Regions from separate parts of the Homo sapiens genome. Here all the other regions are reported to be linked to region 5. Evidence: microRNA targets listed by miRTarBase, many of them from high-throughput screens and not tested one by one. Region 5 holds a microRNA gene; each other region holds the end of a gene's coding sequence.
What was found. The annotated mature microRNA hsa-miR-623 reads AUCCCUUGCAGGGGCUGUUGGGU and lies in region 5 at 1,782-1,804, shown strand. An mRNA with a match to its seed (bases 2 to 7 or 8) in the 3' UTR can be bound and repressed. Matches are read on the target gene's strand: a 7mer-m8 pairs with bases 2 to 8, a 7mer-A1 pairs with bases 2 to 7 and ends in A, and an 8mer does both.

Region 1 (5,989 bases), not on the chromosome of region 5:
AATTGCCCAAGGTCTCTGAGCAGCCAGATAGTATGACTAGATCTCAAATCTGGAATTCTAGATTCTCGATCCAGGTTTCTTTGCACAGTACCACGCTATTTTTGATTAATAGTTTTGAGTCTTGCTTGTATTACATATTACATAAAATTTACAATAAGGCACTGGGCTCTTTTGCTTTGACTACTTGTATCTGTCCTTTCTGGAATAAAATGCAGATTTTAGACCTAGTTACATCTAGAAATTAGGAGTAGGAGCTTGGCAAATTATTTTTTCTAGGATGCAGGTAGACTTTACTAAATGATTAATTATAGCTTTTATCCTCTCCTTCAAAGGTTACGGTTAGATGCTTGTCACTTGCTTGTCCTGATGCCTTAGTCCAGCTCTCTCTGAATGGAGACTAGTTGGTGTTGCCTGAGTCCTCTGAGGAGTGCTGTGATGACAGCATCCTACCCACAAGGTTCCAAGCCACAAGGCTCTGTGCCTGCTGTCAGCAGCCAGAGTTGTATCTGGAACAGGGTTCTCCACCAGAGTCTAGGCTTCCTGGGGGTGCTGCTCACCTTCCAAGTTATGGGGATTCTGTCCTGATGTCGAATAGTTAAATACTCAGCACAGAGCAATAACCTATGTGTTTGTGATGGGTTTATTTTAATGAATCTAGATGAGTGAAATGCACATTTTTAGAAACTAGGTTAAGAGAGACCAACTCTCCCAACTAAATTTTTTGTTGTGCCTAGTTGGGGGTTTTTTGTTTTTAGTAATAGTGACCATGGGCCTGATGAGGGAGGCCACTGGGATAAGCTTTGCGGGAACTCCCGGAATGTTTGAGAGGTTCTCTTGTTCTGGTCTTTCCTGAGACTGAAGCCACTGGCAGCAATGTGCACGCTGAGCCGCAGCGCTCTGGCTGCTGGATTGTGTCCATGACTGCTCAGGACGTTGCCAGGATGTTGTGTTTTCCAATAATAAGCATTACTCTATAAATGCAAATTACCATTGTATGTAAATGTCATTGTACCATTTATCAAGCATTTACTCTGGGATAGGCAGCACTTTATGTACATTATCTCAGTGTTTCCTCATAAAAACCCGGTGAGGTATTTTTGTCCCCATTTTATAGATGAGGAAACTGGGTCTCAAAGAGTTTAGGTTTTTGCTCAGAAGCATATAGTTGGTGTGTGACAAATCTGGAAATCACCCCAGGAATGTCTGACTGCAAAGCCCCTCCTCTCAATAAACTACACAAAGTCTGCATTAAAAAAAGAAAAAAAAATTCCCACAGCCATGCTGACTCTCTTCTAGGTTCTAGTCTTATATTTGGAAGCATTAAAGATAGAATCCTGAACCTAAAGACAGTATCAGTAGTGACATCTGCAAAGATAGACTGTCATCTGCCAGGTCCTACTTTGACCACAACACGGAAGAATAATAAATGACTGGAAGCCTAAGTAGTTGTATACAATTATTAGATTTTGTTTTAAGTTCTAATAGGTGCAAAAAAGGCCTCATGAAAATGAAATGTTTCAGATAAAAGAACTACATTAAAATAGAGCCATGAGTAAAAGAATCAGATAACTATGTGTTAAACATTTTACATTTCCTTCGAGTTAATTTACATTTGTAGAGTAATGCTTAATGCACATTCCTGTATACAACTACTTTGAAGTCCTTAACATGACCAGAGCATATTATCACAATCATTGGTGTGGATCATTGTTAACTATCTATCTGTTAATTCTTACCTGCCCTGCCCTTTCAAAATTATCCTAATAACATGTTGCTGCATCAAATCTAGAACTTAAATAAGTGGATAAAATATATAGCTATGTCTGTTAACCATTTATTAAGAATCTCTTTTGTAGGTGAGGCACTATGTACTTTATCTTCATTATCTATGTAGTTTCCCAAAATCTGCTCAAAATATGTAATGTGATCCTAATTTTTAAAATGAGAAACCTCAAGTTACCCAGGCTGTGAACTCAACTCCACATTCCTGTGCTTTTCTTTCTGTACCACACCATCTCCTTTAACCACCAGGATAGCCTCTGGGTTTGCTATGGACATAGGCATAAGATTGATTTTACTAAATATCAGCTGTCCCAACATTCTTATGATTTTGAGTTATCAGAAAGACCTGAGTTTCTAAAAACTTGAGCTTTGGAATCACAGAATTAACTTGAACAGCCTTATCATAGAGAAATGAAACAATTTTGAAATAGCTGTTTGAAAATAGGTTGAGGATCCTAAATTAGGAACCACTAATCTGGTCTTTTTTTGTTGTTTAGGAAACTGAAGCACAAAAAAGAGAAGCTTCTCATAGTGTTACAGAGCTTATGCCAGAATTAGGACTTAGAATTTAGGTCATCTTGCAGCAAGTCAAGTGTACCCTACTGGACCCCAGTGCCTTTCTCCCTCCCTCATACCTCTTTATCGACCTACATATCTACCTACTTCTCTCTCTCTCTCTCTCTCTCTCTGTTTCTCCATCCATCCACCTACCTACCTTTTCTCCGTTGTCTTTTAAATAATGTATATTACCAAAAAAAACACCTTTTCTGCAGAGGAACTTAATCACCAAAACTGATGCTTGAGGTGTTTTGTTTTCTTCCACTCTCATGTTAAGATTTTTTCTATTTCAGAAATTAACCCTGCAGCATGTGAACAGTAATCAGTGCCTGGATAAAGCCACAGAAGAGGATAGCCAGGTGCCCAGCATTAGAGACTGCAATGGAAGTCGGTCCCAGCAGTGGCTTCTTCGAAACGTCACCCTGCCAGAAATATTCTGAGACCAAATTTACAAAAAAACGAAAAAAATAAGGATTGACTGGGCTACCTCAGCATACATTTCTGCCACATTCTTAAGTAGCAAAAAAGGAAAAGTGCTTTCCTCCTCTGCAGGATGTAAGGTTTATCAGCCATTAAAACTTAGACTTCTCTAGCTTTTCACTAGCTGTGAACCAGCCTTCCTGTCCATGGACGTGAAACTGCATAGTAATGAGACTGTGCACACTGATGTTTACAAGATTGAAAGAGTCTTTCTCCGAAAATCATGGTAAAGAATACTGAGACAATGAAAAAAAATCAACAAAATATGCTTTCTGGAGAACTGTACCTTTTATGGTTTGCTTGCACATCAGTAGTTTCTGCTGAACGTGCTGTCATAATGAAGAGATTTCCAAGATTTTTTTTCCTGATTAGAACTGGTAGCCAGTATATTAAATATTGATATAAAAATAAAAGAACTGGAACCAGATTCAGAATCATGAAAACAACATTTTTACAACAACAAAAAAACTATATTAAACAGGGTTTAAAGGAAATTAAAACAGAACTATGAGAAGTACAATTTGTTATAGTATAGTATCAAATTTCTATATAGATTTTATACCTCAGTGGGGAAAAATAACTGATTCCAATGACATTCATTTTGTTTTCATCTGTGATAGTCATGGATGCTTTTATTTTCCTTGGGGTGCTGAAATTGAGCTGAAAAAAAAAGGCTCTTTGAATATAGTTTTAATTTCTCTCTACAGTTTTTTTTGTTTGGTTTGTGGGCTGTTGGAATTGTAATTTTTAATTGCCTTCTAAAAAATGGAAATTTAACAATGTCTGATCTCAGCTGAACAAATTAGATGTTTCAGTTGCTCTTGGGTCAACTGGCTTACAGATTTACATGTGCACACACACACAAATTTCTTATCACATTTTCGACTTCTTCACTTGACCTAACTGATTATGCGAAATACCCAAGATTCATGCTACTGTACCACAGATTTGTTTTCACAGCAATAAATCTTCAGTTCTTTGTTTATGATTCCACTTAACAAAAGGCCTGCAGAAGTGATTTATTATTTGGGTATTTGGAGATAATACATTTGATGGTTTTTTGGAAAACCTTTTTCACTCCATACTCAGATATGCTTCATTGTCAAATGCATATTTAGATTAGATTATTGAATTGTAATGTTTATCTGCTGCTTTTTTTAAATAAAATTTGACTGAAAATGTTTAATTGGCATTTTTTAATGACTTAGCCAAAGAAGTGCAGCTATTATTCCATATTAATAGGCTTGCATTTCTTTTCCTAAATCTTATTTAGGCTAAATCAGTTTTATTTTTCTCTGATTTTTTTTAATACCACAGAATCACCTGAGTGTCAATTGAAAGTTGTCAATTAAAAGGTAACCTTTTAATCTCGTAGGAGGAATCTCATTAAGACATTTTTCCTGATATGTAGAGCAGTCTGTTGGCAAAAATGCATATATTTTCTTTCATATTTGTAAAATTATATTTAATGGAATTCTTTTCTTTGATTATCAAGGACTTTCACTGCAGGCAGTGCTATTTCTTGTGCCTAAGAATGTTTCCAAAAGTCGCATCGCTAATGATATTTGCCAAGTTGAGTGTACACAAAGTTTCTCATATCCTGTTCAAGTTAATCAACATCAAGCACATGGGGATGCTTTAGGGTGAGTCTATAGTACAAAATGCATAAACCATGTCCCCAGGAAATTTGAAAGGAAGCAGGTGCTGAATGGAATTTTTTTCCTTTTCCATGAGCTGTGTTAATTCTATCTCCAGTAGGCCTAATGCTTGAATAAGCAAGATGTCTAATCAATAAATTATTTTCATGCTCAGAATTTCAGGTTTTTGTACTCCAGCATAGCTTGGTCTTATTTCTTACTGTATGAAAGCTTAACAGCAATGTGATTTAAGGTTTTGTTTTAAATGGGAGATGTAAGTGATTTAATTCATGGGTACTTTTAGAACCTGATAGATAATCCCATTGCCTTTATTTTTCTAATTAAAGAATTCCTAAATACTTTGAAAATACAAAATATTCCTGAATAGTTGTGCCTTACATTGGTTTTATTTGAAGTTAGAGTGGATCCCTGTTTATCATAATTACTTGTAATTAGGCAGATGCTTATCACTCTATTATAACTCAAATTGGGAAGAAAAGAATGAAAAAGAAAACAATGGCTGGGTACTGGCTCATACCTGTAATTTTAGCATTTTGGGAAGGTGAGACGATAGGACCACTTGAGGGCAGGAGTTTGAGGTTGCAGTGAGCTATGATGGTGCCACTGCACTCCAGCCTGGGCAACAGAGAAGAAACCATGTATCTTAAAAAAAAAGAAAAAATGAAGGATGAAAAAGTGGGATTATTATTTAACCAGTGAAGAATTCATAAATGTGACAATTAAGGATAATTTGAATCTCACAAATCTATTCACCCCACCCCAGTCAAGGTCTATTTTAATATATCTATCTTCATTGGCATTCTTGAGAAATAGTGCTGCCATTGAACATTGGGAATATTCATCCATTCTGCAGATGGAGGACATCGTGCAGGCCATGTCCTCATTGCTCCCATTCTACATTTAGCTGAGAAACAGAGGTTCCTCTTTGTAAGGATTTGATGCTCTTCTCATCTTCCAAGAAGTATACCAAGAGCAAATTTAACTCTATAGTTACCTGTTCTTCAAAGAAAAAAGAAACTTAGAAGGTAGTGTTTCTGAGGTCATAACTGTGAGGGGTTGTATACAAAGAATGAGTCACTTTTTAAGCCATTTGGAAAATTAGATCTGTTTCTAATTAGATGACATTTTCTCCATTCTCTGATTTCCTGAAGATTGCCAAGCATTTGCTTGATAATCTACCAGGACTGATAATTTTGCAGAATATGAGGCAAATATATGAAATTCAGTTGTGTATCTATATCCTAGCAACAAACACTTGAAAATATAACGTTAAAATATGCCATTTGTAATAGCATCAAATAAGTCAAACTTCTAAGTAGGAAGAAAGTTAACAACAAGACCTCTACTCTGAAAACTACAAAACAGTGCTGGGAAGAATTATAGAGCACCAAAATAAATGGCTATTCTATGCTCATGGATTGAAAGACTGCATAATGGTAAGATGTCAGTTCCCCACAAATTGTTATCTAGATTCAATGAGATCAAAATCCCACAAGGCCATCTTGTAGAAA
Region 2 (6,049 bases), not on the chromosome of region 5:
AAATAATTACTAGCTCTTTAGAAGCTTCAGAGGTGAAAGGTGTAGACACATCATCTCCTTCTGAATCAGAGACCTCAGTGTCTCTATGGAACCTTTTTCAAAAGGCAGCCACATTCAGTCACGCCTTCTATACTGTCAGAGGCAGGAGGGCGATCTTGGGTTTTGGATGATTCAAGTAGACTCTGCCACACAAACGTGCTTCTGCATCCTGTGTTCTGTATTTCACGGGCAGCGTTTCTGGCTTCCCAGGCACTGAGCAGCCTGTGGGGGGCACGGCAGGGCAGGACTGGGGTGTGTGGGTAGATAACCTCCTGGGACGGCTGCCTCTCTGTGGAGCACACTGCCAGCCCAGGCGCAGCGACCACAGAGCACATATTCTGGAGCCCTTCATTTTATTTGCTCAATGAAAATACTTCGTCCTTTTTTATCAGCAATACATATAGTTCCAACAAGAACTATTCATCACAAACTGCCAGCCTGGGGATTTCTTCATGAAATATTTTGTATTTGCTTGGTACATGGTTCAAGGAAACTCTTGTGTTTGTGCCAATCAGGGAAATAAACTGAACAATAAACGACACTGAAATAGAGTATTAGGCAATATGTAGCTTTGTTTTTGCTTTTTTTTTTAAAAAAAACCACTGAATTTTTTTCCACCCACAAACACATGGAAAGTGCAGAAACCAGTTAATCTATGTGATGTATTTGCATACGTTTACAAACAAGACAAATTAAAACAGAAACATGTTCAGAATTTAACCTGATTAAATATTAAGTTCAGTCCTGAGCTTTTGATATTTAAGACAATATAGATAAAGCAATAGCAAAAAATTTTAATTTATTTGATTTGCATGCTACAGAGATTTAGCTAAACTTTGTTCATTTGGCTAGCAATATTCTTTTTGTACCTGTAACACTTAAGATTCTGATATACAAAATTGTAATAATATACTGATAATTCAAACTTGAGAACTAAATATTACATTCTTTTTACCCTGTGCGAATAAATTCTACCTTTTAAAAATAGTATTTATAATATTAAAATTCATATTTGTCCATATGGTTTTGTGATCAAGTTATTAAAATGTTTTGTCACTGTGAATCATTTGGGTTAGTACAAATATGACAAGATTATTAAAAGCTGCCTATAAATACATAACACTATTGCTGACTTTTAAAGTGTAGAAAAAGGATTATATTAAAATAAGTTCATCTCTCATGTTAGAAATGAGGAAATTTTGTGAAATACAACAACCAAAAGCATCTTGGTCACAACTGCTAACTACCAGCCTGAGACAGATTTTATTCTTTAATACTTGTCTGAAACTTTTTGTATTACAAAAAGTCAACAGCTAATCTGATGAAAGACTTATAAAGCTGTAAATATTCCAATATAGTCTCTTCTGTGTCAAATATTTAAAATGGCCAGAATCAAACTATATATTAAACAGAACATAAATAAGACTGTAAATAAATAAATGAAGAAAATAAAATCGTACGGAACAACTACACATAATTCTATAGACATTTTCATGGTCAAACTAAGATGCTGAAAACAGCTCACCTTCATTTACCTCTACATTAAATAAACTTCTGTCTTTCACATTTGACCTTGACAAGGGTGAACTGTATTCTTTTTCTAGTTTTCCTTAGTCATCTAATAGAATGAACTGGGCAGCCTTAAAGGACTGTACTCAGTCAATTCACTAGGCTGGTTTTTGTTCAAAGCAGTGTCTGCCATGTCCAGTTATGTCTTCAAAGAAATTTGTATGTAAGTGTTGGGACATTTAGGAAAAAGTAATTAAAGTTCTAGGCTCAGAAGTTGCTTAATTTGAACTTCAATTCCAATAACATGAACTTTCCAAAATATATATAATTGCTTTCAAGAAAATAAAAATTCTTGCTAGTGAGCTAGTGAGCATTCTAACTGAGGAACAAAACTTTTTTTTTTTTTCTTCAAGGGGTCCATTCCTTTAAGACAATTTTGGATTTCTTTAAAAAATCTATTTTATTTGCTATATTAGATGGCTAACCCAAAATTGTTTCTTGGGTTATTGAGTAATAAGTATGGTTTAAATGGCCTAAATACTACATATTTTAAAAGCCTTGATGCTGGCAGAGCTGCACTGAGGATCTGTGTTTTTAAGAAGTGCCTGGGTCGGGTAAGGTGAAATTCTAAACTGGAGGACACATTAGTCAGTTTATCTCTCTAAACTTGTTCATCCAAAATAGGCTTTTTAATAAACAATTTAGCTTATACTTCAAATTAATAATCCCCCCACACACATTCTTCCCTTTGCCTCCCAACTATTTACCATAAATTATAGATAGAACCCCCTAAAAATGAGAGCTATGAAGTAGTTTCTACTAAATGTTAGAAATCTGCTTGATAAACTCTTCTTTGTTTTTGGCAACTTTGATTCTATCAAGACATCTTTCCCCCTCTTCTTGGTTACACCAAATGAGTGCCGATGCATTTCCCTCCACCCCTCCAGCTCTCTCTGTCCTCAGAACACAGGGCCACCACTAGGCACCATCCTTAGATTTAGGGCAAAACACTAGTGCAAGCCAGAAACTCACTTTTGAACACTTAATGCAAATTCAGGCTGAGTGAGACAAACCAGCTGCTCATTTGATGAGCTTATTTGTATCTCTGCGTGGCTGGTGTTCTTTCTTCTCCCTGCCCTCAGTGTCATGAATCCCAAGATCTTTCGTGTAGCCAAGAGTAGTGCTCCTTTGTATTCTTATTCTTATTTTTATTCTTAAGAGCACTTGGTAGTTTATATCTTAGTTTTCTTTAGAAAAATATAAAAGGACAAAAAGGAAATTGTCTTAAGGAAACCAGGTGTTCCCGCACAGGTGATGGCCGTGGACGCAGCATCCATTTCGGGCGGACTTTGGAACGCTGCACTCCAGCGTGTGCTCACACTGCCTCCAAATGGAAAGCGCTCCTCTCCTCGCCAGCGCACAGATACCACGTGGCGCTGCTGCCATCGGCACAGCCTACTCACAGGAACACAAAGGAGAAGCAAAACCACCGGCTGAACCAAGTTGTTTCTCAACAGCCGGCTCAACAGTACACATGTGGGGTACTGCCTCTATTCCATTTTTACAAAATGAAGTCCACTGGCAATGCGCACATACTGGGCAACATTTGTGTACCAGGTTATCCCATCTTTCTTATATGATTTTTTCTTTTTTAAGCATATAAAAATTACACTCAAGGTACTTTACAAATTAATGTGTTGAAAATCTGATGTGAAATAAAAGTTCTTCAAGAGTTGACAGTTACGTTACCAAAAAAAACCAAACACCAAAACAAAAACACAAATCTTCAGTCTTTTACCCTCCCTAAGAAAGTGAACAGATGAAAAAATAATTTCTTAAGTCATGTAATCACACATCATCAGCTGGCAGGGATGGGATGCTTATCTTTGCTCTGGTGAAGTAGGCAATCTTCTCCCTAGAGTTGGGGTGAGAAATAAATTGACTTATATATGATGCTAAAAATACTCTGGGACCATTAAAACAGTCCCCAAGACCTGCAGTGGCAGTGATGTCTCTGCAAGCACAGGTAGAAGCTCTTTTCCTTACGCAGAACTCCATTTAAAATCAGGAGAGCCTCTGCCTGCTTAAAGGGGGGGTATCAAGGAGAACAGCAGCTCTGGATCACGGAAGTCACCTACAGACCAAGCCCGTAAGTTCCCTTCAGGGAACTTCCAACAGAAGACAGTTTTTAAACTAGTAGGGGTTTGGTCTAGGATGGGTGTTTCCGAACTAGGTAGCAGAAGACTCAAAAGGCCCAAAATCCTACCTGGAAACTTCTCAGTAACCTCACAGAAAAGCACACAATAACAGGAAAAGTCTTTACATCGATACCATGCCGGGGCAGGGACAACCTGATGAGCGACACCACGACGCAAATGAAAGGAGAAGGAGGAACTATCTGCAAGGTAGTAACTGCCCTGGTCCCGAAGCAGCGGAGAGGCTGAGACAGGGCAGAGCGGTTTTCAGGTGAGGAGAGTGCTTAAAAAAAAGACAAACAGTGCGTCTATTTCCCTACAGAACTTCACACTGTACATGGCATTTATGCCGTCAGCACGTATTTCTTGAGGGCATATTACATGCAAGGGGCATGCTGGTAGCTGAAGAATCAAGCACTGGTTCTCCCTTGCGAAAGAACAGTCCAGATGGGGGAGGAGGTGCGGGTTAGAAACCAGAGCTGAGGTGGGGATGTTCTGAAGACTAAGAAAGGATAGAGAAGAAAAGGAGGAGTGAGAACACTATGGACACTGGAACGAGCTACTGCTGTGAACAGTGTCCTTTAAATTTGTTCAATTCATAAGAGGAAAACAAGAACAAAAAATGCCACGAGTGTAGGTGTGATGTCAGCGGAGGCCTTAAGGCGCAGCTGCTAACTGGGGTGTTTAAAAATACCTGAAGTAGTTGCCGGCACCTGCATTTGAGATATTTCACAGAAAACTGTTGATTTCTAACTTCTCTTGAAAAATTAGAAGGCCAGGGACCATCGGGCTCCTGATTCCAGGTGAAACAAGCAGCTGGGGTGGTGCCGGGCAGAACGGCCCAGGCCCCACCGCTGCCTGATCTCACCACCCCAGGCCAGGCAACGGTAGCCGTGCAAATCCCACGCTTCCAGCATGTTCTGTCTCACCCTGGTCCATCTCATCATTCTCGTCACTTCCCTGGTGATATAATATGCTTCGTATCTTAAGGGAAGCTGGGAATGTTCGTGGATTCTTTGCTTCAGGTTTCGGCAACAACTGCGAGTTGTGTGACTTTCCACGCTAGACAATGCTGCTTATTCTCTAAGTGACCACAGCACCAGGGACATGGATGGGCTCCCCTCACCTGCAGTTCTAAAACCCAAGTAGTGGTAGTCCCTGAAAGTCACAAATGTGATTCTTTAGCAGAAAAGAGGGTGGAAAAACCTCTCTACTGCAGGGTGTTGCAGAAAAATGAAAGAGCTGTGAGCCCACTAAGGCACACTGCTGCTGCCACACGGTCCGTGGCCCTGCCCTCCCGCTTGGTACCAGACCTCAGCCTGCCATAGCTGTCCCTGCTCCACCACGTGACCTAGCTTCCCCACACTTCAAAAACACTCGCTTCTTCTGGGCTTCTCCCCTTTATGCCTAAACACTTTCCAAAGACTCGTCTATACAAAACCTCAACCAAAACCAAATAAAAACGCAATAGGAACAAACCTTTTTGCTGAGCTCCCTCCGTCGGGGCTGAAACCATCTAGTGTGCTCACCAGGGATCCCGGATGTACTTTTCAGTTCTCTCCATCAATCTCCTCTTCCCACCCTCTTGCCCCAGGCTCCTGGTTCTCCTCTGACCTCTCCAGCCATTCTTTCTAGCATCTCTTTTGGGGCGAGCCCTTCAGTGATTGGTGCCCACCAGCCTCCTTTCCCAGTCACCTCACATTTTCTGGGATGTCTGGCCCATTTCCACAGATGAGACCAATGCATTGAAGATGAGCACTCCCATTTTTTAATCTCCATCCTGACCCCTAACCCTGGCTTTAGATTTTTATTTCCACTTGTCTACTGGTCATGGTTATCTCACTAGCCTGCTGGCATTGCCTGGTGTGCCATGGCAGAGGTCAGCATCCTCCCCACACCCCTGCTCCCCAGCATTCTCCATCTCGAGCGCTGGCACCACAGGGCAGCCACTGCCCCCCACAAACCTCCCATGAACCTAACTGGCCACCCTTACCCGCTTCTCCCCAGCCCACTCTCCACAATGCCTCTGATATCTGCCCTACATAAAACCCATCCCCATCATTTGGTTTTGTGCACGGAGAGCCCTGCTGGCCGCCCGTCAGAGACCACGGGTGGAAGCCTTCTGCACAGCTTCCAAGGCCTGTGCAACTTGAGCCCAGTTCTCCTGGGCAGGCTCACCAGCTGGCAACTCCCCATGCGCCAGAGCTTGGCACTGACTTCTAAGGTCTGTGCCTCTGTCCATGCTGTTCTTCCCGCCTCAATGTCCCACTCAAAACTGCCACCCCTAGGTGCCTAAGGAGCTTGCA
Region 3 (6,109 bases), not on the chromosome of region 5:
CATTATTTTCCCAACAAATACATGTAAGTTTCCTGGGTAAGAGTCACACTACAAGTGTCTGATTCCTCTCAACTTGTGGTGCAAGACTGATGTATTATATTATGATGTATTTATTATCATGTATAATAAACATGAAAGAACCCACTTTGAGAGTGTGAGTAATCCACATATAAAGCAGAAAAACAGAATTCTGATGTAATTGTTTGAGAACATCAAGTTTTGCTTGGGGAACAAAATGCAGATGGTAATGAAGGTTTAAGTGAGTGTTTACTGTCTTTTAGAATTTACAGGGAAAATCGAAACTTTCTACACAACTCCTAGAATCAAGTCCAAACAGAACCAATTACTTTTTTTGCCAAAAAATATAATTTCTAAGTGTATTTTTCACTAAAGTTATTTTAAAATAATTTTTAAGAAATGCCATACAATTTGCTTTGAGCAAATAATTTGTGCCCACTGTCAAAGTGTGGGCAGTTTGTAAAATGTAGTTTGTAAAAATGTAGTTTTGTAATTGCTTATAATTTTTCTTAGGCAATACTCAAGAAGGAGAATCCATTTAGCACCTCCTCAGCCTGGCTCAGTGATTCATATGTGGCTTTGGGAATACTTGGGTTTTTTCTGTTTGTACTCTTGGGAATCACTTCTTTGCCATCTGTTAGCAATGCAGTCAACTGGAGAGAGTTCCGATTTGTCCAGGTAAGAACTTCAAGTTCATTCCTAACTTTTCATTTTGCTCCATCACTTCCCTAGCAATCATATTTAAAAATTCAAATTAGAAAATGTTGAACCCAGGTACAAAAGGCAGAATCCATAATGATTTGATTTCTTAATACTCGCCAAGATTCCTGACTGCCTCCATATCTACAGCTAAGACTATAGGGTGAAAAATACTAAGAACTATTACAATTTATGTGTGGAGATGTACTAGGTACAAGGCAAAAAGAAACCCCAAGACAAAATTTCACCATCTAAAAAATTAACCTTACAACATGGACATACAGATATGGAAAACCAGATGTTGAGATAAAGTTTAAAATCTTCACAGCAAGATTTGATAGATGTCATCACACCGGAAGACTTAATGCTCTTCTGTAAGAGGGAAAATTGTTTTCTTCCACATGTCAAGCACCAACCAACCCCTCTTTAAAGGCAGTTAGTAACTACACATTCTTGTAGACCAGTGGTCCTCAAAATATGGCACCAGGACCAGCAGCATCTGCATCACCTGGAAACTTGTTAGATACACAAAGCCCCAGGCCATGCCCAGGCCTACTGAATCAGAAACTCTGAACCTGTGGCCCAGAAATTTAATGAGCCTTCAAGATGATTCTGATGCATGCTTATTATGAGTATAATAGAAAAGAGCATTAGTCTTTAAAATTAGGTTAGAATTTTATAGAACTATTGGAATCTTAAGTCTTGCAATTTCTCCCAGGGACCAAATGCAGTCAACATGTTCTCATTAGCAGTTTTGTTCAAGGTATTAAGGCAGAAATAAACAATAAGCTTTAAAATGTAGGCTGAAACAAGATTGGCTATTGCTCTTTATTGTGATAGAAATGAGCTAGGATCTGGTTTTAGTCAGTAACATATACTAAGATGGTGCTTCTTGAGGTCATACTGTGTCATATTCATCTCTGACCTCTAGAAAAGATGATAAATAAAAGAGTTTCACCTTTGGGAACCAAGACAAGCTACATTATTTATTCTAACTTGGAAGAGTTTACTCCTGGGAAACTTTTCCATCCAGCTAGGTTAAGGTGAAGCTACTATGTCATTTGTAAGAAATAATCTTGTTTTAAATGAAGTATTTACCATCCTGAAGAAGGGTTAGTGCTTTTTTTCAGTACTTGGCAAAGTGTCCTAAACATTATAGGTCTCAAATGTTTGTGGTTGTTGACAAATATCTGTCACTGGCTTAGAGTGTTTCACTTTAAGATGTAAATAATGTTAACTTACATATTTTTGTTTCTTGTTTATAGTCCAAACTGGGTTATTTGACCCTGATCTTGTGTACAGCCCACACCCTGGTGTACGGTGGGAAGAGATTCCTCAGCCCTTCAAATCTCAGATGGTATCTTCCTGCAGCCTACGTGTTAGGGCTTATCATTCCTTGCACTGTGCTGGTGATCAAGTTTGTCCTAATCATGCCATGTGTAGACAACACCCTTACAAGGATCCGCCAGGGCTGGGAAAGGAACTCAAAACACTAGAAAAAGCATTGAATGGAAAATCAATATTTAAAACAAAGTTCAATTTAGCTGGATTTCTGAACTATGGTTTTGAATGTTTAAAGAAGAATGATGGGTACAGTTAGGAAAGTTTTTTTCTTACACCGTGACTGAGGGAAACATTGCTTGTCTTTGAGAAATTGACTGACATACTGGAAGAGAACACCATTTTATCTCAGGTTAGTGAAGAATCAGTGCAGGTCCCTGACTCTTATTTTCCCAGAGGCCATGGAGCTGAGATTGAGACTAGCCTTGTGGTTTCACACTAAAGAGTTTCCTTGTTATGGGCAACATGCATGACCTAATGTCTTGCAAAATCCAATAGAAGTATTGCAGCTTCCTTCTCTGGCTCAAGGGCTGAGTTAAGTGAAAGGAAAAACAGCACAATGGTGACCACTGATAAAGGCTTTATTAGGTATATCTGAGGAAGTGGGTCACATGAAATGTAAAAAGGGAATGAGGTTTTTGTTGTTTTTTGGAAGTAAAGGCAAACATAAATATTACCATGATGAATTCTAGTGAAATGACCCCTTGACTTTGCTTTTCTTAATACAGATATTTACTGAGAGGAACTATTTTTATAACACAAGAAAAATTTACAATTGATTAAAAGTATCCATGTCTTGGATACATACGTATCTATAGAGCTGGCATGTAATTCTTCCTCTATAAAGAATAGGTATAGGAAAGACTGAATAAAAATGGAGGGATATCCCCTTGGATTTCACTTGCATTGTGCAATAAGCAAAGAAGGGTTGATAAAAGTTCTTGATCAAAAAGTTCAAAGAAACCAGAATTTTAGACAGCAAGCTAAATAAATATTGTAAAATTGCACTATATTAGGTTAAGTATTATTTAGGTATTATAATATGCTTTGTAAATTTTATATTCCAAATATTGCTCAATATTTTTCATCTATTAAATTAATTTCTAGTGTAAATAAGTAGCTTCTATATCTGTCTTAGTCTATTATAATTGTAAGGAGTAAAATTAAATGAATAGTCTGCAGGTATAAATTTGAACAATGCATAGATGATCGAAAATTACGGAAAATCATAGGGCAGAGAGGTGTGAAGATTCATCATTATGTGAAATTTGGATCTTTCTCAAATCCTTGCTGAAATTTAGGATGGTTCTCACTGTTTTTCTGTGCTGATAGTACCCTTTCCAAGGTGACCTTCAGGGGGATTAACCTTCCTAGCTCAAGCAATGAGCTAAAAGGAGCCTTATGCATGATCTTCCCACATATCAAAATAACTAAAAGGCACTGAGTTTGGCATTTTTCTGCCTGCTCTGCTAAGACCTTTTTTTTTTTTTACTTTCATTATAACATATTATACATGACATTATACAAAAATGATTAAAATATATTAAAACAACATCAACAATCCAGGATATTTTTCTATAAAACTTTTTAAAAATAATTGTATCTATATATTCAATTTTACATCCTTTTTCAAAGGCTTTGTTTTTCTAAAGGCTTTGTTTTCCTTTTTATTATTTTTTTCTTTTTTATTTTTTTGAGACAGTCTTGCTCTGTCGCTCAGGCTGGAGTGCAGTGGCACGATCTCAGCTCACTGCAACCTCCTCCTCCCAGGTTCAAGTGATTCTTGTTCATCAGCCTCCCGAGTAGCTGGGACTACAGGCATGTGCCACTATGCCCAGCTAATTTTTGTACTTTTAGTAGAGACAGGGTTTCACCACATTGGTCAGGCTGGTCTTGAAATGCTGGCGTCAAGTGATCTGCCTGCCTCCGCCTCACAAAGCACTGGGATTACAGGCATGAATCTGGCCTTACGTAATATATTTTCTTAATGGCTGCATAATATCACATCAAATAGGCATTTTTCAAACCTCTTTCCTTATTAAACATGTAGACTATATCCATTTTTTACTAAAATAAATAACATTTCAGATAATATCTTTGCACTGATAATGTTGCCAAGCCATTTCTAAAGTGACCTTATCAATTTAATTACCATTGGATGAGGGTGTTGCTTTCATCGCACCATTGTAGATTGTCTTTTTTATTTCAATTTGCGTTTATTTATAACTGGTTGCAAAGGTACACAGAACACACGCTCCTTCAACTTATCTTTGATAAACCCAAGCAAGGATACAAAAAGTTGGACGACATTGAGTAGAGTCATGGTATACGGTGCTGACCCTACAGTATCAGTGGAAAAGATAAGGAAAATGTCACTACTCACCTATGTTATGCAAAACAGTTAGGTGTGCTGGGGCTGGATACTGCTCTTTTACTTGAGCATTGGTTGATTAAAGTTTAGGTACCATCCAGGCTGGTCTAGAGAAGTCTTTGGAGTTAACCATGCTCTTTTTGTTAAAGAAGAGAGTAATGTGTTTATCCTGGCTCATAGTCCGTCACCGAAAATAGAAAATGCCATCCATAGGTAAAATGCTGACCTATAGAAAAAAATGAACTCTACTTTTATAGCCTAGTAAAAATGCTCTACCTGAGTAGTTAAAAGCAATTCATGAAGCCTGAAGCTAAAGAGCACTCTGATGGTTTTGGCATAATAGCTGCATTTCCAGACCTGACCTTTGGCCCCAACCACAAGTGCTCCAAGCCCCACCAGCTGACCAAAGAAAGCCCAAGTTCTCCTTCTGTCCTTCCCACAACCTCCCTGCTCCCAAAACTATGAAATTAATTTGACCATATTAACACAGCTGACTCCTCCAGTTTACTTAAGGTAGAAAGAATGAGTTTACAACAGATGAAAATAAGTGCTTTGGGCGAACTGTATTCCTTTTAACAGATCCAAACTATTTTACATTTAAAAAAAAAGTTAAACTAAACTTCTTTACTGCTGATATGTTTCCTGTATTCTAGAAAAATTTTTACACTTTCACATTATTTTTGTACACTTTCCCCATGTTAAGGGATGATGGCTTTTATAAATGTGTATTCATTAAATGTTACTTTAAAAATATTTCCTAGTTTTGTTTAATTCTGGTTTTAACTCATCAGCATTCCAAATAAAGTTACTAAAAGGTTTTGAATCACAGTAGTTCCAGCATCTGGGACTAAAAATACTTCCCTTCAGGGATAAGCAAAAGAGAAGGCAGTGCATGGGTTTGAAAGTGCATTAACAGATCTGCAGCTTCTTGCAATGTAAGCTTGAGCTCAGCGGGGTGGCACAGTCCAGTATGCTGTGTGTGCTTCAGTATTACCCTCAGAGAGGGGAGAGCATCAGATGGCTAAATGGGGAGGACTGCACTATCCCACGCTGGATTTTTGTGAGAATTTGGAGGTAAAAAAGGCTTTCCTTCTCCATGCAGACGCCACAGGGATAAGGCTAATGGCTTGACAAGCAGACTTCAGGTTGGATTCAGACTGCGTGACTGGGCATTAAATGCCTTGCACAACTGGACTGCTGCAGCTCTGATGGGTGTTATCCTGCTTTCAAAAATAGTATTAAAACTTACAAATAAAGAGAGGACTGACAACCTGGAGGAAGCTGGAAGCAAATGGAAAGCCCCTACTGAAAAAGCCATTTCAATTAGAAATTCATTCAGGAGCTCTTCATTCATCTATTGTTCAGGGATCACAAAAGAGCCATGATAATGATAAATGCATATTATGCATTTCACCTCTGAGAGCATAAAAGCTTCTGGAACTCTGTTCCAAAATTAAGGTGTAATGGCAGTCATGGTACTGCACACAGTAGTTGCAATTTTCATTCTCCATCATCACAACCATCATCTTCACTACCACTTCTCCAACACACACACACACACACACACACACACACACACACCCCATGAGAGCCCACAGATAGCCTTACAGGGTCCTACTTCAATTTTCTATAATGAATTAGGTTTACATTCTAGAAAAATCCTTCACTCTTCTAAAGGTT
Region 4 (5,812 bases), not on the chromosome of region 5:
ATTGCCTCTACCATGTGAGTCCCAGAGACTATAACTAGGCCAGATATCAAAGATGCTTTGCCTTTCTCATCCTTGTGTTGTGAAAGACAAAGAGGCCAACTTATGTTTGCTCCTGACTCCCAAAGCCCAACACTTGACAGTCATATTTCTTGTATTTCAGGGTTCCTGGTGGCCTGGCCTATGGTCCTCCTGACTGTCCTCCTGGCTTGGCTGTTCTGAGAGCTCCGCTGAGCATCTGGCCTTGAAGTTTGTGTTCTTCCCTCTGGCAATGGCTCCCTTCAGCACTTCTGCTTTCCACTCCAATTCACACAGGCTTGGTATTAATAGAATCAAGGCCAAGCTAGGTTAGGAAAAGGGAAGAGCTTTCACCTTCTTTAAAACTCTCGGCTGGGCGCAGTGGCTCATGCCTGTAATCCCAGCATTTTGGGAGGCTGAGGCAGGTGGATCACCTGAGGTCAGCAGTTCAAAATCAGCCTGGCCAAAATGCTGAAACTCCGTCTCTACTAAAAATACAAAAATTAGCCAGGCATGGTGGCAGGCGCCTGTAATCCCAGCTACTCGGGAGGCCAAGGCAGGAGAATTGCTCGAACTCAGGGGGTGGAGGTTGCAGTGAGTTGAGATTGTGCCATTGCACTCCAGCCTGGGCAACAGAGCAAGACTCTGTCTCAGGAAAAAAAAAAAAAAAAAAGAAAAGCAACATAGTGGGGTTTCTGTCAATCTGTCCTCGGCTGCCCTTCTCATTTGTTGATGGGACCTTGAAAGCAAGCTTGCTAGGTGCCCTCTGTGGCTCCAGCCTTTACCGGAAGTGTGGTGCATGTTTTTAACTTCAGGGAAGCGGTATCCTGTCACTGGGGTATGGGATGAGCATGGAGAAGAGGCACCAGCCACGATTCCTTCCTAAGCATCTCCTGTTCTGACTGCTCATGAATTGAAGAAACTGACCCTTGTGTTCACTCTGCTTCCTCTGATTGTTTCTATCATGGTTTCCAAAAATTGCCATGGGAACATGTCAAAGGGCCACTTTTGGAGACTCTGCTCCAGGAAGAACTAGTCCCCATAGCTCCCCTATCCCCCACCATACCACAGACATGCTGTGACTTAGAGAACTACACAAACATCCTTGGGACCTAGATGCTGGAGGAATGACTTAATTTGATGCAGAAACTCCATCACCCAAGGGAGTACCTCTCACTGTAAACAGTGCTGTGCTTGCTCTGAAGGATTAAGCAAGAAGTCCCAACAGAAGCAATGCACCAGTCCTGCTATGGGAATGAAACTGCAAAGCCTAGGAGATGGGTGAAGTCCCTTTCTGGAGACCTTTAATGAGTACTTCAAAGCACCCGACACAGATGCAGCAAATAGGGCATCACACATACACAGGCATTAATACTCACGGGCATATAGATGCTGACATGTGTACACTGACTTACGCCCTTCCCACAGCTACAGATAAGGCCTCGCAAAGTTGGCCTCAGAGACACATCAGGAACCAAGGTGGACCAGCAGGTGCCGAGCCTGTGTATCTGCTTGGAGGAGACGTTCCAATGTGCTGCCTTGTTCAGAGATGGTGTAGTTGCAAGAAACAGAAACCCACCACAATTTCTCAGGCAAAAAGGGAGTTAATTATAAGGACATAAGAGCACAAAGTTCCAGTGCAAGAGATACATCCAGGCTGCACAAGCTCCGGGAGTGGGGCCTGGCAAGCCAAAAGAAACCAAAGTTTGTCTTGCCTTCTGTTCCTCTTTCTGAAGCCACATAGCCTTTTATGACTGTGTATTTTTGCATCGCTTTTGTTTTCTTTTTATGTCTCTGAAGCCAGCTTTTCCTGTTCACTCATCCCTTGATTAAATATGGACATTCTAGCTTCACATCACTTCCTAATTCAGGGACCAACAGAGACTGGTTAGCATGTTGCTATCCCACCTCCAAATTGCATCAGGGAATTTGATTTTGCTGCTTGGGTCAGGGTCCAGTAGTCTGGGCCAGGGGACTGGGACCATCTAGCACATAGCCAAAGGGGCTGACCTAATGGGGCAGGTCTGACACAAATGGGGTCATTTCTTGGACAGACATCCCAAGGGCCACTATGATAGTGGCTTCTCTAAAAGACGGGTTCCTGAGAAGAATTGCATTCTGTTTCCCAGTGAGTTAGCGGAGTCATACTTACTACATCCCAAGGCAGGTGGCATGGTAGAAACAGGCCTGAAAGAGAGGTCAGGTTCTAACCTTCTCCCCTCTCTGAGGCTCAGCTGCTCCCTTCTGTAGAATAAAAGGGGTTGGTCTGTAACAAGATTTTCAAAAATTTATAGTAGTGAAACTTTACAATTCGACTTGGACAACCAGAGATTAAAAGCAAATAGATTCTTGTTGATGTCAGGTGGGGAGCTTAGCTCTCCCATTCTGTGATTCCTTCCTCTGAAGGCCCTCAAAGCAACTCCATAATAACTCACAGAGCTGCCAGAGCCGATGTTTTGGAGCACCCTGAGACATATGAACTCTAATATAACTTCCAGGAGAAAGTACATAGGATTCCACTTAGAGCCAATCTCAGCTGTCTATCTGTCTAGCTACCTGTCATCTATCTATCCATGTATCTATCTATGTATCTATCTATGTATGTATGTATCTATCTATCTATCATCATCTACCTCCTATCTACCTATCGTCTACATACCTCCCTACTCAATTATCATCTAGCTAGCTAGCTATTTACACCTTTTTGTTTTCTACAAATGGGCATGTTGTCTGAATAACAATCTCTGAATGTCCAGTCCACTTCATTCATTCATTCAGTCAACACAAATTTGCTTAGCAGTTTTTATGTCCCGGGTCCAAGGGCCTGGGTACAATAATTAATTAGACACAATCCCTTCCCTAGGAATGTTCCCAATCCTGGCAGAACACAAACTCACATAGAGGCACTCACAGGCAAACCACAAACACACATGCCCACTTAGCCCCCCACACAGGCCTGTATACCCAGAGGCGTCTATCCACACCAACACACACATTCTAACAGACACACATATCAACCTCACGTGCCCAAAGGCACAGATGCACATGCAGAAAGCCTCAGAGACCCTCAAGTCAGCCACTTACATATTTATTGTCATGAATTACTTTGTAACAACCAATATTTTTTAACACCCCCTACGTATAAGGCATTATTTTAAGTGCATTTTGGGCATTATATCATTCCACCCTCACATTAGACATTGAAGGTAGCCACTATTATTACCTTCAATTTAGTGACGAGTAAACCGGTGCTTTAAAAAGATAATTACTCAAAGGCCTATAGCTTTTAAATGCTGATTTCAGGGCTTGAACCCAGGTAGCCAGACGTTGAAGCAAATGCTCTAAACTAGACTCTGTATCCTGCCTCCATTTATATATAACACTTAACACACACACACACATAAACACACACACACACAGTGCGGCACCCATATACACACAAACGTATATGTGTATAACATATATGCACCCACTTGCAAACAGGTATGTGGACAGACACATGCATTTTCCAGCAAAGGCCCTCACACATACACAGGCATTAATAGTCATGGGCGTATAGATGTTGAGATGTGTGCGCTGACTTATGCATCATGATTTAGTGCAGACACACCAATGGAACTTCACATATAACTTAATACAGAAAAAAAACCCACAGAGACACTCCAATGTGTCATACGTGCACACACATATGTCTGCACATGCACGCATACATATACACATAAACACACACATACATCCCTACGAGACACAGGATCTGGATCCAACTCTCCTAGAACCAGGATTCCTGCCATGTTTCTCTCCCATCAGCTTACATCTCCCACCCCCAGTGCTGTTCAGCTGGGCTCTGGGGCAAGATAAATTCCAGCTGCAGAGGGCTCAGTGAAATGGGCCCTGGACCCAGCATCTGAAAGTTCTGGAGAGTAAGGATGTTGGGGATAGCCAGAAGCAACCTGAAGACTAGTCTTCCATACCCAGGAAGACTGGCCTCTCAGGTTTGAAGAAGCCTTTGCAAGCAGCTGGTAGAGGATACCGAGTGGCTTAAGGTGCCCTCCCCTCCAAGAACTTCAACTCTTCTTGGGGAAACAGAATGCAGATACTGGGCAGCAAAAGCTTAGTAGTGTAAGACTGAGACAGATACTGCAAGACTCAGAGAAGGGAGAGCTCAGCCCAGCCTGGGAGAAGAGGGAAGGGCTCAATCCCAGTCCCTTCATTTCATGGATGGAAATTAAGGTCCAGCAAAGACAAGTGGCATGTCCATCCTTAATGACCAGGCAGGGATGAAGGTGGCAGGGAGAAAGGTAAAACTGGTCACCTGAAGGAAATTTGGCATGGGAACCCCAGAGGATACACCCCACCCATCCTAACTCATTTCATAATCTCTCCTCACTCCGTTCCTCTCTTTCAGCCTCTTTCTCCTGTGAAGGGCCAGAAATCACCCTCATATTTTCTATCATATTAGATTCTCCCTTCTAAAAGTCTATCAAATTCATCCACTTTTCTTCAACCCCATTGAATCTGATCTTTTCCGGGCTACTTTCATCTCTCACCTTAACCACCATAATAGCTTCTTAAGTGGCCTTTCTTCAGGCTCACCTCTCTCAATCCATTCTCTACTCTGCAGCTAGTGAGCATTTAAAACAAAAGACACTTTCTCCTTTAGATCGCTCCAGAGGCTCTTTACCTTCTATAGGATGAGTTCTGCCTGCTTACCTGACAGATCACATTCTTCACCATCTGAGCCATTGCCTGCCTCTCCAGACTTAGCCCTTAAACATATCCCCTTCATAACCCAGCTTCCAGTGCCACGGAATTTCTCAGGCTCCCTGAGCTGTTCTATTGCACTCTACCCTACTCTCGTGTGCTGTTTTGCTGCCTGGAGGACACTTCCCCTTATTGGGGTTATTTCTCCTATGAAGGCTTCCTGGATCCCCCTGTCCAGTGTAGAGTAGGCAAATCAATCAATAGAAAATAGACCCACAAACGACAAATAATATAATCAGCAGACCAGAAAGTCAACACAGTTTAAAAAATACATTCCATTTTTTTCAAGAAAGTAGAGAAAAGCATGAGCATGATAAGTAGAGAAAAGGAAGATATATATTTTAAAAAACTACTACCCTACTTTATGACCTCTTCTTTACAGACTTTTTTTTTTTTTTTTTTTTTTTTGAGATGAAGTCTCACTCTTGTTGCCCAGGCTGGAGTGCAGTGGCGCGATCTCAGCTCACCACAACCTCTGCCTCTCCGGTTCAAGTGATTCTCCTGCCTCAGCCTCCCGAGTAGCTGGGATTACAGGTGACTGCCACCACGCCTGGCTATTTTTTTGTATTTTTAGTAAAGATGGGGTTTTACCATGTTGGCCAGGCTGGTCTCGAACTCCTGACCTCAGGTGATCTGCCTGCCTTAGCCTCCTAAAGTGCTGGGATTACAGGCATGAGCCACTCTACAGACTTTGATAATCACATGTAGCGTCTGCATCTGAAATTGTTTTTACATCTGTCCCACCTGCACCCTTCACCCCAGGCTGTTAGTTTCTTGAGGACAAGGACTTCATCATTTTCAAACATTATTGGTCAAATAAATGAAGAAATAGGCTGCATCCTTTCTCTTTATCCTTTGACCTCCTCTATCATCCTGCTGTTATCTTCCAGAAGGAGAAGAAACAGCTTCACAGGAAAAGTAGAGGAGATTTTCCCATTATGGTGAAAGTGCCAAATCAGAATGTGAAATAGGAATTCTGGGCTCTGTACCAGGCATTTACTCCTATGCTGTTAGCTGATGTTAAAGAGGGTGGATT
Region 5 (6,109 bases):
AATATAATGATTGGGAAGAGACAGCTCATAACTAGCTTAAGGCTATCTAGTCCAGCTTTCCATTTTACAGCTGGGGAAACCCAGACTCAGGGTTTTATTCTCTGTTCACTTGGCGGCTTGGCTGAGTTCTGTGGAAGTTCAGCAGAGCAGGGGAACAGGAGGGTTTGGGTTGCAGAGAAAGAAGCCACTTACAGATGGGAAACAGGAGTTGGGCCCTATGCAAATGGAAGGGACCAGGGAGGGCACTTTAGGTGGCAGGGACAGTTTGAGCCGACATAGTAATTTAGGATGTAATTTAGAGAAGTAATTTACGATGGGGCTGGTTTGGGCAGACCTGCAAAACAGGACAGACTCAGACAGGATGCCCGAGGGTTTTTGGTTGAGGCAGTGTCATTGTGAAAGGGCTTCTTGTGCACACTCACTGACCGTGGCATGCAGATTGGATTGGGGAAATCTTACTGGCAGTCATGTCATCCAAGAAGTTGTTGGCATAATCTCGGAGTGCAACAGCAAGGACCTAAACGGGCAGATCCTCTCCCAGGGGAAAATCAGTAGTCCTTCAGCGTTGGCTGGGTTTGATGGACAGAGGAGAGCTGAGTCCAGACATGAGCTGGGAAGTGGACATCCGCCTGCCACGGTGAACGCAGATAGGCAAGTGCGGGAATGAGACTCAGGTGGTCACTGAAGACATGAAAATGGATGAACTCTCCACGGAGGAAATGTAAGAAGAGGGGAAACCTTGAGTAATCCCCAGTCTCATTTTTAATTAGGAGTTTCACCTCTGTTTCTGTCAAAACATTTACTGTAACAAGTACCAAAACTAATTTTAATTTTGACTTTTACTTTATAATTTGTGTGTAGAGCCAATGCTGGGAAGGAAAAAATGACCCCAAATTTGGCAGACAAAAGAATGAAGGAAGGGAAAACAGAATATACGATGCAGAAATGGATAATCCACACTCTGAGAGATGCACTTCCATTCTTATGTCTTCAAGGCCACTGTCTCAGTCCTCGCTGTGTGGCCCTTACCGTCACCAGCGTTCAGTGCTTACAGGTGTGTCACTCAGTCGAGGGAGTGAGGAAGCTGCAAGACAAGGCCTTGGCATGCTCTTCCTGCGCTGATGTCCCTGACCTGCAGCTGGGCTGTGGGCTGTGGAACCCTGTGGTCCCCCCACGCCACCCTCTCACCACCACCTCCTCCTCACAGAGCAGCCTTAGCATTCTCATTCTCTACCAAAACCAAAACCAAACCAAAACACAGGAAAAGGTTGGGACACCTCTGGTCCTGACGGTCCCTGGAGGAAAAGTTCCCCATGAGGAGTGATGGGTCAGTCACGTTTTCAAAACAAACGAGAGCCAGGACGCAGGCCTGTGGCTCAGCCCGCAGCGTGCTTGGTGCCACAAGCCCCCCCGCAGCTGCCCAGAGTCTCACCCCACTCTGTGCAGGGGGCCTGGAGGGCAGCGGCGGCACAGACCCACTGGACGCCCTGGTGCATGGCTGAGCCATGTGCATCCCATGGCTCTCTCCAGAGTCCCTTCCCTGCACCTCCAGGGCCTCCCCAGATGGAACTGGCTGGGAGCCGTGCTTTGTTGAAACAAAGGGAAAACCTGTCTCTCTTGGGTTTGCAGCTGCTGTTGAAACCAACTGAACCTGTTTGTAAAATTGTACCTATGTCACAGTAAGATCAGCTGTGCTAGGTATGTCAGGCCTCTGAAAAGAAATGTCATTAAAGTAAACAAGACTTGGGACACATGTCTGTCAGACTGTACACAGTAGAAGCATCCCTTGCAGGGGCTGTTGGGTTGCATCCTAAGCTGTGCTGGAGCTTCCCGATGTACTCTGTAGATGTCTTTGCACCTTCTGTCCTCATTGCCATCCCCAATCAGTCCCTGGAACACCAGCTGTGGCCCTGACCCTTTTAGCCCCTGCATGGAATGCACAGGCAAGGCGTGTGGCCTTTGGGACTCCAGCCGACTAGAGCAAGACAGAGGAAGAAGAGACGGGGCAGAGGGCAGCCGATAGTTGGAAACTTCTGTCCCCTAAGCCAAAAGGTTCTCAAAACTGAGCAACAGGATGTATTGTGTCTCCTGATCGTATTGCCATGGAAACTGCCTTCTGTTCTGCCTAGAAGAAATAGTACTGTTTGAAGTATCTCATCCATCAACACTGGTCACTGTGAGAAACCACAAAGGAAAAGTGAAACCGAGAGCTGCAAAACTAGCCTGGGACTTTGTTCAAGCGATCATCTCCTTTCCCTCTAGTTTATTATTTTTTCCAATACCTACTGAGACTACTGCTAAGCAGCACAGAAAGATACAATACACTGTTTTTATAGCACGACACAAAGATCATGGGTGGCACTTCACATGACAGGGTTAGATTCAGTCTTCTGAGTTTTCTAAGGTTCCTATTTTTAAGACTTTACCAAGGAACCAAGGCTTTCAAATATGCAGCATGGTTTCTTCTGGGCCTCGCGTTGCCCCATCTCTTATCCAAGTGGTGAATGTGTTGCCAGTTTGTGTGTGGTTCTGGTGGTGGGCTTTGTTTGGTTTTCTTTTTTTGGGCTTTGTTTGGTTTTTCCCCAGTTTTGCCACAAAGCTTTTGCTGAGGACAGCAGCCTCTGTGGTGTCTTTTCTCTCTGTATTGTGCTCACTCTTGTAGTCATGCACCACATAACAATATGTTTTGGTCAATGACAGATTGCATGTATGACAGTGGTCTCATAAGATTATGATGCCATATTTTTGCTATGTCTTTTCTATGTTTAGATACACAACTACCATTGTGTTACAGCTGCCTCCAGTATTCAGCACAGTGACTTGCTGTACAGGTTTGTAGCCTGGTCGCCATAGGCTACACCAAGCAGCCTTGGTGTGTAGTAGGCGATCACATCTAGGTTTCTGTAAGTACACAGCAACAAAGTCACCCAACAGCACATTTCTCAGAATGAAGCCCTGTTGTTAAGCGACACGTGACTACAGTTTTAAGTCTAACAAGATGCCTCTCGTTCAGTCCTGAAGTGCTTCTTGTTTAGTTTTTAATGTACGTTTGTTTTGTTATCTCAGCCAAACTCTTTTCAGGGCCATAGGAAATTAGTCATTTCTCTGTGTCACAGCCTCCTTATCTGGCCCCAGGACAGCGCACTACGCATAGAAGGCAAATGAGTAAAACTAAGTGTAAGCATATTCATACTTACACCAAAAGCTGCAGCTTCCACAGAGCACAGGGAATTGCAAATAACTGTCTTCTATGAGGAGCTGCCATTTGTGGTTTCACCAGTTTCCCAGCATTGCTTCTTTGTAACTCCTGGTTCTTGTATTAGAAGAGGATGCTATGTCCATGAAGAATGTAGGTATCAAGCATGTCCTTTGGGAGCCTCCTTGCTTTAACCCCTCTCACCCCTTCCACCCCGCCTTCATTAGTAACCCATCACCTGGGTCTTCATATCCCAACTAACTACAGTCTTGGCTAAGAAAACCCCATACGCCTTAACTCAGCAATATGCCTCACTATGTCTTTGTCCATTCAGTTATCCATTTTGCAACTGTTTCTTGAGTGCTTGCATATGCCAGGTCGTACAGGAGGCCAGGTCTACAAACAGGACAAGATGGAGAATCACAGTCCCCGTGGAGCTAATAGGCTGTTGTGAGATTCAGGCCGGTTAGCCTGCAAGTGAAATGGGATGTGCTGAGAGCTGTCCTGGGGAAGGGATGGTGAGGTGTGAGAGCACGCAGAGGAGTACAGGGTGGTGAGAGCAGGCTCCCCAGCAGGAGTAGAGAATGTGAGGGCGGTGTTGTGAGAAAGTGACTCCAGTGGCAGACAGGAGTCTGGTAAGCCCAGGTAAGAAATTTCTGTCGGATTCTGAAAGCAACAGGGATGCATTGAGTAGCATCAAAGGGGAGGATGTCTGTAGTCATCCGAAAAGGCCCTTAATGTACTCTCCCTTTCTTTTCTAACTGTGTATCTATGTGGCTGGATTTGCTTCATGTACTTCAAAAACCAGAGTAACAGAACAAAATCGAATGCAGAAGCAGATGGGAGAATCCAGCAACCTTCTAGTAAGTCAGACATTAAAGAGATTTGCAAAAATGGAAAACAGTGCCACTCTTCTCAGTAATTCTGTTTGGGAAAACATGGTTATTTTTTATTTCAAAAATCTATATTTATGTTAGCAAGTAATAGGCTTGTGATTGTTAATGAGTTATTAAATATTTTTAAATTAATAAAAGGGCAATGAGGAGCCAGCAAAGGGTTTCTAAGTAGAGGAGGGGCTTGACGAGATTTGTATCTTAGGAACTAACTCTGGAGCCACCCCGGCCATGGACTGTGGTCTCACACGGGGCAGTGAGAGTGAGGGTGGAGACAGTGGCGGGGGAGTTCCAGTGGACAGAGCCTAGAGATCTGGTTTATGCAGTGGATGGATGTGGATGTCACACCCCAAGACAGGGGACACAGCAAGAGATATGGGGTGGGAGATGAGTTTGTTTGGGACGTGTTCTATCTTAGGTGTCTCCTTAACATTTAGATGAAAGTGTGTTCAGGAGACAGTGGGTTACATGGCTCTGAGACACAGTGTTTGGGTTGGAGGTTCGAGTTTGGGAGTCTCTACCCCATGAAGCCCTAGGAATGGATGGGCACCCAGAACACGGAAGAAGGAGAGAAACACTCCCCACATGGAACCTTCAAGAACACCCGTGTCTGAAGGACAGGAGTGGGAGGAGGAGAATCTGAGGACACTGAGAAGGCGTAGCTAGAGGGCTAGAAAGAAAGCGGGATGCCACAAAGCCTGGGGAAGAGAATGTCGAGGAAGAGTGGTCAGTAAGACCTGGTGCTGCCAGAAGGCAGGTCACAGAGCGCTCAGGAGGATCCACTGGATCTAACAAAGGGTGCTTTGATAACCTGGAAGAAAAAGGAAAAAGTGTTTCATTATTAAAATACCAGACTATGAGCTTCTAAAAGGCAGGGAGGTTGTCTTAATTCTCTTTCTACTTTTGTTGCTGAAAGTATTACCAGGTACATTAGTAGATGTGATAATTTTGTGATTTTACATTAACTCATTCAAGTAAAACGATCTAGTCTTTTTCTGCCCTTGATCTCCGTGGTAGGTCATCCCCTTTGTCAGAGACTCCTGTTAAATCAACCTGTTTCCTAAATGTGTAAGTATTTCCTTATGGCCTGGGGTAAAGCTTCCCAGCCACTGTGCCATGGTCATAGATGGGCTGAGATACTGGTCCCCTCCCCGCTTGGGGGCAACTGGAAAGGGCCTGAAGCCACTGGGCCAGCTGTAAACAGTTTTGGCTTTTCCTGTGGACCATGCAAATCTGTCTTTTTCTGTGTGTGCCATGAGGTGGAAAACATTTGAAAGCCTTGGTCCATAGCACACTGAGTAAGTCCTTGTGTGGGCCCTGCCTCGCCTCCCGTGTGCCCAAGCACAGCACCCCTAAAGAGTCACATCGCCCTTCGCTGCCTACCCCATGGTCTCCCCCAGAACCTTCCCTGCATGGTGGCCTGCAGGGGGCCACCGATTGTAGACTGGAGGTGCCCCTGCTGTGTGCTTCACACTTCAAAACCTGGCATGCTGATAAAGGCTTTCTGAGCACCAAAGACTGAGAAGAAAGGGTGCATTTGTTTCCAATGGCCAACAGTCTTAAAATAAGATGAAGATGCTTTTGGAAGTCATTTTGGCTTTTCTAAAACATCGCATTCATAATGCCCCCTCTGTAATTGTTCTCCATTTTACTCTTTTATGGGGCACCAACTTGTACGAGCAGTCAGCTCAGGCTGCAGTGAGCTGAGAGTGGTACTGGCCACCTGGGAAATATGTTCAGGTCTTCCATCCATCACAGCCCTCCAGGATCCTGTAGTCTAGTTGGGAAGACGAGAAACAATACTGTATAAAGTATAAGGCCAAGTAGTAAGGATCAGAATAATCATAGCTAAGCTGCAATAAGCTTATAGATGGCTTTACGTTCTATTTTAAATGTTTCACATGAATTAACTCTTTTGATTCTCATACTCTCCATGTGAGGTGGGTGCAGTTATTATTACCACTTTACAGGTGAGAAAACCAAGGGTCATGGAAATGTTTGAAAATGCATCTAAGGTGTT

Region 1: the mRNA of GALNT1 is a reported target of hsa-miR-623. The part of its 3' UTR that is shown has no 7-base or 8-base seed match.
Region 2: the mRNA of WWC2 is a reported target of hsa-miR-623. Seed matches in the 3' UTR shown: 7mer-A1 at 2,291-2,297.
Region 3: miRTarBase lists STEAP4 as a target of hsa-miR-623. Seed matches in the 3' UTR shown: 7mer-A1 at 2,682-2,688.
Region 4: the mRNA of GP2 is a reported target of hsa-miR-623. Seed matches in the 3' UTR shown: 7mer-A1 at 353-359 and 7mer-m8 at 1,175-1,181.

The regions. Positions count from the first base shown.
Region 1 is chr18:35,706,991-35,712,979 of GRCh38, forward strand. It overlaps GALNT1 (polypeptide N-acetylgalactosaminyltransferase 1), which reads left to right. Exons shown (of 12, transcript NM_020474.4): 12 at 2,634-4,844. The coding sequence ends at 2,780. LOC105372064 (a long non-coding RNA gene) reads right to left here. Exons shown (of 5, transcript XR_935377.3): 2 at 4,996-5,989. Among named protein-coding and RNA genes, the nearest start is that of MIR3975, 120 kb to the left of the region's middle.
Region 2 is chr4:183,313,077-183,319,125 of GRCh38, reverse strand. It overlaps WWC2 (WW and C2 domain containing 2), which reads right to left. Exons shown (of 23, transcript NM_024949.6): 23 at 1-3,463. The coding sequence ends at 3,397. It overlaps CLDN22 (claudin 22), which reads left to right. Exons shown (of 1, transcript NM_001111319.3): 1 at 1-1,026. Among named protein-coding and RNA genes, the nearest start is that of CLDN22, 4.2 kb to the left of the region's middle.
Region 3 is chr7:88,275,502-88,281,610 of GRCh38, reverse strand. It overlaps STEAP4 (STEAP4 metalloreductase), which reads left to right. Exons shown (of 5, transcript NM_024636.4): 4 at 532-696; 5 at 1,983-6,109. The coding sequence ends at 2,213. Among named protein-coding and RNA genes, the nearest start is that of STEAP4, 28 kb to the left of the region's middle.
Region 4 is chr16:20,305,630-20,311,441 of GRCh38, reverse strand. It overlaps GP2 (glycoprotein 2), which reads left to right. Exons shown (of 11, transcript NM_001502.4): 11 at 161-1,868. The coding sequence ends at 219. Among named protein-coding and RNA genes, the nearest start is that of GP2, 19 kb to the left of the region's middle.
Region 5 is chr13:99,354,365-99,360,473 of GRCh38, forward strand. It overlaps MIR623 (microRNA 623), which reads left to right and starts at 1,767; the gene lies at 1,767-1,864. The region is part of intron 7 of UBAC2 (UBA domain containing 2); the gene reads left to right. RefSeq lists an enhancer at 1,794-2,033.